Linked DNA regions of Homo sapiens. The protein of the gene in region 1 purifies or fractionates together with the protein of each later gene. This does not show direct contact. Each region holds a gene or a part of one and is shown in the gene's direction. Other genes may lie near its edges.

Region 1 (4,477 bases):
CAGCTGGATTTAGGTTAACCACAACCTCTGGGCAGTCAAGAAAAATGACAACAGATGGTACAGTAGTTTTGCATTGCTGCTTATCAAGCAAAAAGCTTGTTTAGCCAAAGCTAGTATAATTCTCTGACCTTGCTTTTTGGAATTATTTTCTTGAGTTGGTTTGCTCTGCTTGAAATTTACTTTGCTCTCATCACAAACCAGACTCCTTTTTACACTGCTATTGCATGAACTCATGGCACTTTATTCACATTTTCAAAATAATTTATAACATCCCAAAAAGAACAATTTGGTTAATGTCCACCTCTAGGAGGAACAATAAACATCGGCAGGATTTGTGTTTCTTTAGTCTTCTATTCCCAAAATTAACAATTTGTTTAAGTTAGAGGTTGGACTTGGACTAAAGATCCATAGTAAATGGAAATTAACTCCACTGTCTCCCTACATGTTTAAATACTGCGAGTTTTATATGTCATCTTAGAAATTCACTCATCAAATATTTTTCCCTCTAGCCAAAGCAGAAGCCCTTAAATAAACAAGCCATGAACATGAGAAGAGAATTAAAGAAACACAAAACACAGTAATTTCCCAATTACTATTTCCTTCTGTGGACATTAGACTTAAGCTATCTAATTTACAAAAGAAAAGTCATTCCAGAGGAGAGACAACTTTGAAATAGTAGTCACAAAATTATTTCTGTTTGGGAGGCATTAAAGAAAAATAGTCCCATGCTATTTGTTAAGATAATCACCTAGCATCATTATTTCTTGTCAAGGTCACAGTTATTATAACTCAAATTTAGTTCCAACATAAACTGTGATCTTGATCTACATTTCTTACAACTTGTTAATACGGTGGAACATGTCAGCGAAATTCATGAGGAATTTAACATCATTACAATTAGTGTAGAAGTTCTTCAATACTTGGAAAGGAAAAAAAATCCACTATAATGAGTTCTCTAAGAGCAATCTCCATATCAAAATCAGAAGCACCCTCGGGAGCTGCTCTTGTTACCGATTTTATCTAAGGAAGAATACATAACAACTCAAAAGCTCAGGTCATTTACATTGGGATAAATTTTCATTAGGAACTTGATCTAGAGAAGAGGAATGTGAGTGGCTTATATCTGAGAGAAAGAAGGTCTACTAATATGTTCGGAATCCCTGTATGCAGGGAAAATAAATCTTTCTCATCTGAAATCTTGTACTCAATCATCCAAGTCCCTCTAAAGCCCTTTTCTCCATTTGCAGTTGCTTCATCAAGACTGCAGAGGTTAGACAACTCCACTGTTCGCACATACTCATGTTGACCAGCCACTCAAAGGAGGCAGCACTGACCTGCTGTGAGTAGTTTCCCTTTGGCTGACAAAAAAAAAAAGACAAAAAAATGGAACCTACATAGACTAATAAATATACACTATACTCTTTGGTATGCCCTAGCAGTACAGAAATGAGATAACCCTTTTGAATTGCTTCAGGGGAAAAAGAAATCTTCATATTGTAACACTTAGTCTAGCATTTCCTATCACCATCTGTCTCCTGTGGTTTAAGGTCTGCCTGTTGGAGGCCTATCACTGTATTATTACACATCAATGGGTTGCCACTACACTGTTTTCTACTTTTTAGTACCATTTCCTGTTGAGTAACTTAGCATTTTATTGATAATAATTCAGCACTTTAAAAAATCCTATCTTTTTAAGTGTATATTTTATATAAGGAAGCCAAGGTAGCGGATAGGGATTTAAGCAAGTTCACCGAGTCAAATAGCAACAGACAGGAAAATGATTTAGAGATGGTTTCATATTAAAAAATAGAAACTTGCCGAGGCAGGTGGATCACTTCAGGTCAGGAGTTAGAGACCAGCCTGGCCAACATGGTGAAACCTCATCTCTACTAAAAACACAAAAAGTAGCCAGGCATGGTGTTGCACTCCCATAATCCCATCTACTTGGGAGGCTGAGGCAAGAGAGTCACTTGAACCTGGGAGGCAGAAGTTGCAGTGAGCGATGGTGCCACTGCACTCAAGCTTGGGTGACAGAGCATGACTCCGTCTTAAAATAAATCAATAAATAAATAGTAGAAACTGTGAAAAATTCAAACCTTTATTACATTGTTTCTTATCAATCTGATTTACACTTGCTAAAAACAAATATAAATTTTAAGTATTTAAGACATATAGGAACAAAATAAAATTACTTTAAGAATGGAGAATAGGACCAGCACAAAACCTTCCTATGTAACCATAAATACCAAGCATTTGATTTTAAGGAAATACCAATTAATGAAAGCTACTTTAAAATCCATATAAAAATGAGGTTTTATTGAAAAACAGTCTTAATAGTAAAACTGTGGTTTCTTAGATTTATAAATGTCAAATGTTCATAATTTTTTTTCAACCTAAAACTATGCTTTACCAAAATATTTAACCACTTTCGATGAATCAATATTTTAGAAAAATACTTTTTAAGAGCGATATTTAGAACAAAATGTGTGCACAGGGTTAAGAGAAAACAGTTATAGACAGAGGAACAACTCACCTTGTGCTGTTTTCATTGCCTTGAACTAAAAGTGCCACACAATTTATTGTTGGTCTTTTGGGCTTAGGATGGGAGCAGATATGCTGCCTTATTTGGATCACTATTTGAAGCTGATAAAATGAAAAGCATCCCGATAAGAGATTTAATTTCAGAATGTACAACCCTTACATTAAAATTTTAATTATGGTATATAATTTGGCACCTAATTAGACATGATTTAAAGTATATAATAATTTGGCTAAATAAGAGGTCTCCCAAAATACTGTTTATATTAGATTCTACACATAGCATTATAATTTCTTCAGGAAATGAACACTTCACTAATTTACAAATGACTATTTAATATGTTCAATAGTGCTTGCTTCTTAGCTCTTAAGTGATGGGTAGAGTTACTCTATTTGCAATCTGTTTTTTGTGCATGACATTCTAGTTCATATTTCCTAGTTTTTACCATTAATTGGGATAACAGTATTCATTTACAATAATTCAATCTAGGACAACCATTTTTTGTTTGGGTGAAACAACAACACTTTTGATATTAAAATAATCCAGAGCATACTACTTGCTGTTTCTTTTGTGTCAGTAATAGCAATTGTGAGCTTTTTCTAAGTACATTATGGCTGAAAACAATCAGCAATGCCATACTACTGACACAAACGTTTACAATAGGTGACTTATTATCGTTATGTTTTTGTAACAAATAAAGGTATTTTTTAAGAACTCTAAAATATATGAACTAGAATATAAATCTACATTATGAAATAGGTCAATTCAACCCAATTTATTAATTAGCAAGTTGTAAATTTTTCAGAAGGCATGCTAACATTTTGCATAACTACCTTTGTTTACATTACTGCCATACTTTCCACAAAGTTGAGCAAATTCTATTATTTGTTAAGCTCCCCTGCACCAAATTGGAGAAAAGCAAATGTTAATTACATACGGCTGTTGGCTACATCCTAGATGATTTCCTTCTCATGATCTTCTAGGACAGGAGTAAGCAGGCTGCGTGGAGGTACACCACAGAGGAGTAGAATGAGATTTCCCAGTCTGGGACTTTTCAGTGAACTAATGCTATCCATTGTATATTTTAGATGGCGTCTTTTCAGTCTACTCTACCTAAAGTGCACTACCATCTAAGAAGACGAGCAGTGAAAACCTTTGTGAAAACTGAATTCTAAGGAAATAATGACGTCATGACTTATTAAAAGCTGAAAAATGTGATTTTTGGGGGGAGTCAGATATTACATTTGATTAGTTTACTACAAATTGTAATAAAATGCTTAAGTCATTTGAATAATAAACATCATCTACATCATAAACTCTGTACAACAGATGCTTTTATGAAATGAAGCCAGTTGTTTTTCATGTTTTATTGTAATATACTAGGCATTTATGTATTACCGTGCATTTCTTTTTAAATGTGTAAGTCTTATGTAAATGGATATAAATATGATTTTTTAAAAAATAAAATATATGGTTCATGGAGTCTCGAGTGCAAACATTTGACAATTCCAAGTACTGTTTGTATTTTACCATTCCACCATTTTTACAGTTTTTGGATTGTTAATAGTCAAATCAATATGTTTCCTTGAAGCATGTTTCATGCTTCAACGTGTTTCTCCTTCAAGTCTGTCAATACTTAAAGCTGAACAACCTGCCTCTGATCATGTAAAAAAGAATGATTTAACCTGGAACCGGAGCCAAAAATAGAGCTTTAAAGGCAATCAGGGATGTCCTATATCTTTAGAAATAGCACTGTGATGGCTTGATCTCCTTTTCAATACAAAACAAAGCCAAGCTGTTTACAAGGGTCAAAAGCAATTATTTAAAAATTTATATTAAAAAACCATAATCTTCTCTTGTTACCTGTGGACCAAGAAAAAAAAAAAGATAAAAAAACTTCTTTACTAAGAACCACATGTTCATTCAAATATCTTGAAA
Region 2 (5,249 bases), on another chromosome or scaffold:
GCTGGTGCTGCTTGGGTTTTGGGTTGAGGGTGCTAGGAGAGGATGGTCTCCACCCATCTTTCTATTTCCAGTACACGTCACATTATTTTACCGGTGAGATGAGAATGTCACAAACATTAAAAGCCTTATGTGCTCATTTCTGCTTATGTGCTCATTTCTCCCCTGACTCTGTGACAAAATACAGCTCTCCTCAGCCAGGCACGGTGGCTCAAGCCTGTAATCTCAGCACTTTGGGAGGCTGAGGCGGGCAGATCACTTGAGGCCAGCAGTTCGAGACCAGCCTGGGCAACATGGTGAAACCCCGTCTCTACTAAAAATACAAAAATTAGCTGAGCATGGTGGCGCGTGCCTGTAATACCAGCTACTCGGGAGGCTGAGGCAGGAGAATCGCTTGAACCTAGGAGGCAGAGGTGGTAGTGAGTGGAGATCGTGCCACTGCACTCCAGCCTGGATGACAGAGCAAGACTCTGCCTCAAAATAAAACAAAAAAACAAAATACAGCTCTCCAGAAAAAAATGCCTTAAAGACAAAACAAAACACCCCTGCCCTCCAAATCTCTTGCCTGAGTCACTACATTCCTTCAAAGATAAATGACCTACTCTTTGCCTTCTCCTAAACATACGATCATGTCTGACAGGGTTAATGATTATACTCTGCAATCTATAACCAGATATACTTATCCCTAAACTTTGATATGATTTTACACATACTAAATCTTCACCTATGTATAACCTAAACTAAAATACCGTGTTAGAGGAGCCTCACAAGATTACTCCTGGGCTACAGGCCTCAGTCTATAGTCCTCAATAAGGCTTCTAAATAAAACTAATTTTAATTATTTAAAAGCTTAATATTTTTTCTTTAGTCAACATACCAATCCTTACATTAATTCTACAGAGTAGGTATTATCTTAGTTTCGCAGGTGAGGAGACTAAGGTTCAGGAAAAAGGATTTGCCTGAGTAACAGACCAGGCCGCGCGCGGTGGCTCACGCCTGTAATCCTAGCACTCTGGGAGGCCGAGGCGGGGGGATTGCCTGAGCTCAGGAGTTCGAGACCAGCCTGGGCAACGCGGTGAAACCCCGACTCTACTAAAAATAAACACAAAAAATTAGCTGGGCATGGCAGCGTACGCCTGTAGTCCCAGCTACTTGGGAGGCTGAGGCAGGGGAATTGCTTGAACCCGGGAGGTGGAGGTTGCAGTGAGCCGAGATCGCACCACTGCACTCCAGCCTGGGCGAGACTCCCGTCTCCCCAACGCGCCAAAAAAAAAAAAAAAAAAAAGGAAAAAAAAAAAAAACTGAGTGTTGAGCTGCGGCGTTGCTTGGCTTCAAAACCCATTCCTGTAACCTCTATATTCACAGCCTCATTTTCTTACATTTAACAGCATGCTACTTCCCCAGGTTTAACCACCATTTGTTTTATTCATTTATTTACCCAATAGGTAGATATTGAGTCCCTACTATGTCAGCTAATAAAACCCACCACGTGCTATGCAGCAGATTAAAAACGAGGATGTACTGGCAAATAAGGGCAGAGAGGATCTATTCTAGATCCAGGAGCCCTCTAGGCCACGCCACTCTGAAACACACACGAAAACTGCTCTGAACGAATACCACCAGTAAAAGGGTTCCATGGCCATCGGCAACAAGGGGTCGAGATCAGGAGGTCGCTCGCCGCCCAGTTGCGTCGCTCACCACCGGCCGGCCACCAGACCCTCGGCTTCCGATCCAGAAACCGTATTTTGTTCTTGCACCCAGACCGCAAGAAGCCTCAGCCCTCGGGGACAGACCGAAGGCCAGGGCTGTACCTGGCTCAGAACCAGGCGCCAAGCGGCACGGGACTCTCCTTCTGCACTCGCAGCGCGTGAGTGCAATTGGAGATCCTGGACTCAAGATGTTTTCATGAGGAACGATTCCAGCCCGCGGTAACTCCGGCCAGTCTGCAGCGTGGACGACAAAACAGGCACCACGTGGTTCCGGCGCCGGGGCGGGGCCAGAGACGCCGGAAGTGACCGCGCGGTGCGCCGGCCCGCGAGGAAACGCGCTCTTAGACCATGGCGACCCAGGCGAAGCGTCCACGGGTGAGTGGCGGGCGCGGGGTCCAGCCTTTTCCTCCGCGCCTCACCCCTTCTCCGTTCGCAGAACCGTCCGCCTGCGCCCCCTCCGCTCCCTCCCGCGGGTCCCGCGCCCCTCTCCGCTCGTCCCCTCCTCCACCCAAAGCCCGTTCTGCGCTCGCGCCGCGGTCTCCTGCAGTTCCCAGCGGCCTCTCTGGGGGTCGGACCTGGTCACTGCGCGCACTTATCTCAGGTGGCGGGGCCCGTGGACGGCGGCGACCTGGATCCTGTGGCCTGCTTCCTGAGCTGGTGCCGGCGGGTGGGGCTGGAGCTGAGTCCCAAGGTGAGCGAGCGAGCCGGCGGGCGGAGGACCCGCGGCGGGGCGCGGGCTGCCCTGACCAGCCCTCCTGCTCAGGTGGCGGTCAGCCGGCAGGGCACGGTGGCCGGCTACGGCATGGTGGCCCGGGAGAGCGTGCAGGCCGGAGAGCTGTTGTTCGTGGTGCCGCGGGCCGCGCTCCTGTCGCAGCACACCTGCTCCATCGGCGGCCTGCTGGAGCGAGGTGGGCACGGCGGCGGGCTAGGGCCCTGGGGCGGGGCGGGGCGGGGCGGGGCGGGCCCGGCCCGCGAGGCCGCGCCGGGGCGCTCACACCTGTGTCTTCCTCAGAGCGAGTTGCGCTGCAGAGCCAGTCGGGCTGGGTGCCACTGCTGCTGGCGCTGCTCCACGAGCTGCAGGCCCCGGCCTCACGCTGGAGGCCCTACTTTGCGCTCTGGCCCGAGCTGGGCCGCTTGGAGCACCCGATGTTCTGGTGAGAGCCTTGGGAGGGGTTGGGGAGCGCCTGCACCGTAGCCTGCTGCAAGAAGTTTCCCCGCCCCTGCACCAGTCCTACCCAGTAAAGTGTGTGAAGGAATGAAGGGAACCTGGGTGTGGGTGTCCCTGCAGGCCAGAGGAGGAGCGCCGGTGCCTGCTCCAGGGCACAGGCGTACCTGAGGCCGTGGAGAAGGATTTGGCCAACATCCGCAGCGAGTACCAGTCCATCGTGCTGCCCTTCATGGAAGCCCACCCCGATCTCTTCAGCCTCAGGGTTCGCTCCCTAGAACTCTACCACCAGCTGGTGGCCCTTGTGATGGCCTATAGGTCAGTGGGTGGGGCCTCTGAGGACGGAACCCTTTTCTTTACAACTCTATAGAGGGACAAAAGTGGAAAAACAGTGAAATCCACCCCCAGTCCCTCACCCAAGACAGGGCCTTAGCCAGGTTCTGTCAATGGCAGCTTTCAGGAACCACTGGAGGAAGAAGAGGATGAAAAGGAGCCCAACTCCCCCGTGATGGTGCCTGCTGCAGACATACTAAACCACTTAGCCAATCACAACGCCAATCTAGAATACTCTGCGGTGAGTGGAGTTTCTCTTGGTGCACTGATTGAGCATGATTCAAGCCATTGTGTCTTAGGCTCCATTCTCTTACTAGTGCTACAAAATGAGTAGGTGAAATCAGCTCCTCCTGTATGTCCTTTTAGTATGCATATTACTGTAGAATCATTTGAATGCGAAACATTTTAAAGTCCTCAAAGTAAGTTGTGGTTAATCCTCTGATAAACTATACTACCATCATTTATTTAGTGCTAGACATTGAGTGGTCTGCATAGCCATGTTTCATTCCTTTCTGGCTGATCACATCAGTGAGCCCAGACTGTGTGTGGCTCTGTGGATAGCAGCCTGGAACAGTGATAGTCTCCGTGTTTTGGAGGGATGAGGACATTCACAGGCCAAAGGTCTAAGACGATCCTAGAACTGATATAAAGCTGTGTTTATACCAGCTCTATTCTATATAAAAAGTAGCCTGAAAAGATGGCACATTTATAGGATCAGAAATTAGTAAGTATGGTTATTTCTTAATCCTTGCCTCCATTTTCCTTTCCCACTTTGATCTGCGAAAGTTCCATTTTTTCCCCCCCGAGGCGGAGTCTCACTGTGTCGCCCAGGCTGGAGTGCAGTGGCGTGATCTCGGCTCACTGCAACTGCCGCCTCCTGGGTTCAAGCAATTCTCCCTGCCTCAGCCTCCCGAGTAGTTGGAATTACAGGCTCCTGCCACCATGCCCGGCTAATTTTTGTATTTTTTAGTAGGGATGGGGTTTCTCCGTGTTGGCCAGGCTGGTCTTGAACTCCTGATCTCAGGTGATCTGCCCACTTTGACCTCCCTAAGTGCTGGGATTACAGGTGTGAGCCACTGCGCCTGGCCGAAAATTTCGTTTTTAAAGCTAGCAACTTTTTAAGTGCTGAAGAGGACTGTGCAGAAATCCACCCAGTTAAACATGAAGCTGGCCTTTTAAAGTTAGCCCAACCCTTTTTTGTTTCACAGTTTAGGGTCTAACAGGAACTAAAGGTAGAACTTTGGTAGTTAACAGCATCAGTCATGGCTGAACTACACCTGCTGAAGGCTCTTCTTAAGTGGAAATAATCTTCATGGGGCTGGCCCGTGAAAGGCATGGCCCCAGCTTCTCCCTTTCACCTCAGAATTGTCTTCGGATGGTAGCCACTCAGCCCATTCCTAAAGGCCATGAGATTTTCAACACTTATGGGCAAATGGCTAACTGGCAACTGATTCATATGTACGGTTTTGTTGAACCATATCCTGACAACACAGATGACACAGCTGACATTCAGATGGTGACAGTTCGTGAGGCAGCATTACAGGGTGAGTGTATCATTAACTCAATATTTGACACTGATGGTGTGTCTATACCCATGCCTCAGGTTAAATAGCTTTGCTAAATAGCAGTTGACTTTGTAGACTGGGTGGCAGACTAAAGAAGAAATGAACCCTTGGGTGTACTGAGACTTTCACATTGCTGTTTCATCTACAGGAACAAAAACTGAAGCTGAAAGGCACCTAGTGTACGAGCGCTGGGATTTCCTATGCAAACTGGAGATGGTAGGGGAAGAGGGAGCCTTTGTGATAGGGAGGGAGGAGGTGCTGACTGAAGAGGAGCTGACCACCACACTAAAGGTAAACGGCTGAAAATGGCCATTTAATGCTGATAATCTAAGTATTTAAAGCAAAATAGCTAGAAGATGAGAGAGGAAATGTGGGATTTTTAATAAATGCTAAGATGAGTTTAGTCTCCTGAGTCATTTCAGAAGTACAAAAGCAGTACATCTAATTAAAGAGCTCTGTGGTTGCTTCTAGGTACTGTGC

What was found. Proteins that work in one complex are often made in the same cells at the same time.
Region 2: the proteins of PPFIA2 (region 1) and SETD6 purify together in Homo sapiens (affinity purification with mass spectrometry; one large-scale study listed by BioGRID and IntAct). This does not show direct contact.

Annotation. Positions count from the first base shown.
Region 1 is NC_000012.12:81,258,811-81,263,287, reverse strand, and holds part of PPFIA2 (liprin-alpha-2), read left to right. Parts: coding exon 1-57; intron 58-1,247; coding exon 1,248-1,306; 3' UTR 1,307-1,339; intron 1,340-2,077; exon of another isoform or gene 2,078-3,627; coding exon of another isoform or gene 3,628-3,656; 3' UTR 3,657-4,477. UniProt on the Homo sapiens protein: Alters PTPRF cellular localization and induces PTPRF clustering. May regulate the disassembly of focal adhesions.
Region 2 is NC_000016.10:58,513,484-58,518,732, forward strand, and holds the start of SETD6 (N-lysine methyltransferase SETD6), read left to right. Parts: upstream 1-2,033; 5' UTR 2,034-2,054; coding exon 2,055-2,081; coding exon of another isoform or gene 2,082-2,307; coding exon 2,308-2,614; intron 2,615-2,718; coding exon 2,719-2,860; coding exon of another isoform or gene 2,861-2,965; exon of another isoform or gene 2,966-2,994; coding exon 2,995-3,189; intron 3,190-3,324; coding exon 3,325-3,445; intron 3,446-4,412; coding exon of another isoform or gene 4,413-4,424; exon of another isoform or gene 4,425-4,536; coding exon of another isoform or gene 4,537-4,567; coding exon 4,568-4,748; exon of another isoform or gene 4,749-4,749; intron 4,750-4,917; coding exon 4,918-5,060; intron 5,061-5,240; coding exon 5,241-5,249. UniProt on the Homo sapiens protein: Protein-lysine N-methyltransferase. Monomethylates 'Lys-310' of the RELA subunit of NF-kappa-B complex, leading to down-regulation of NF-kappa-B transcription factor activity. Monomethylates 'Lys-8' of H2AZ (H2AZK8me1).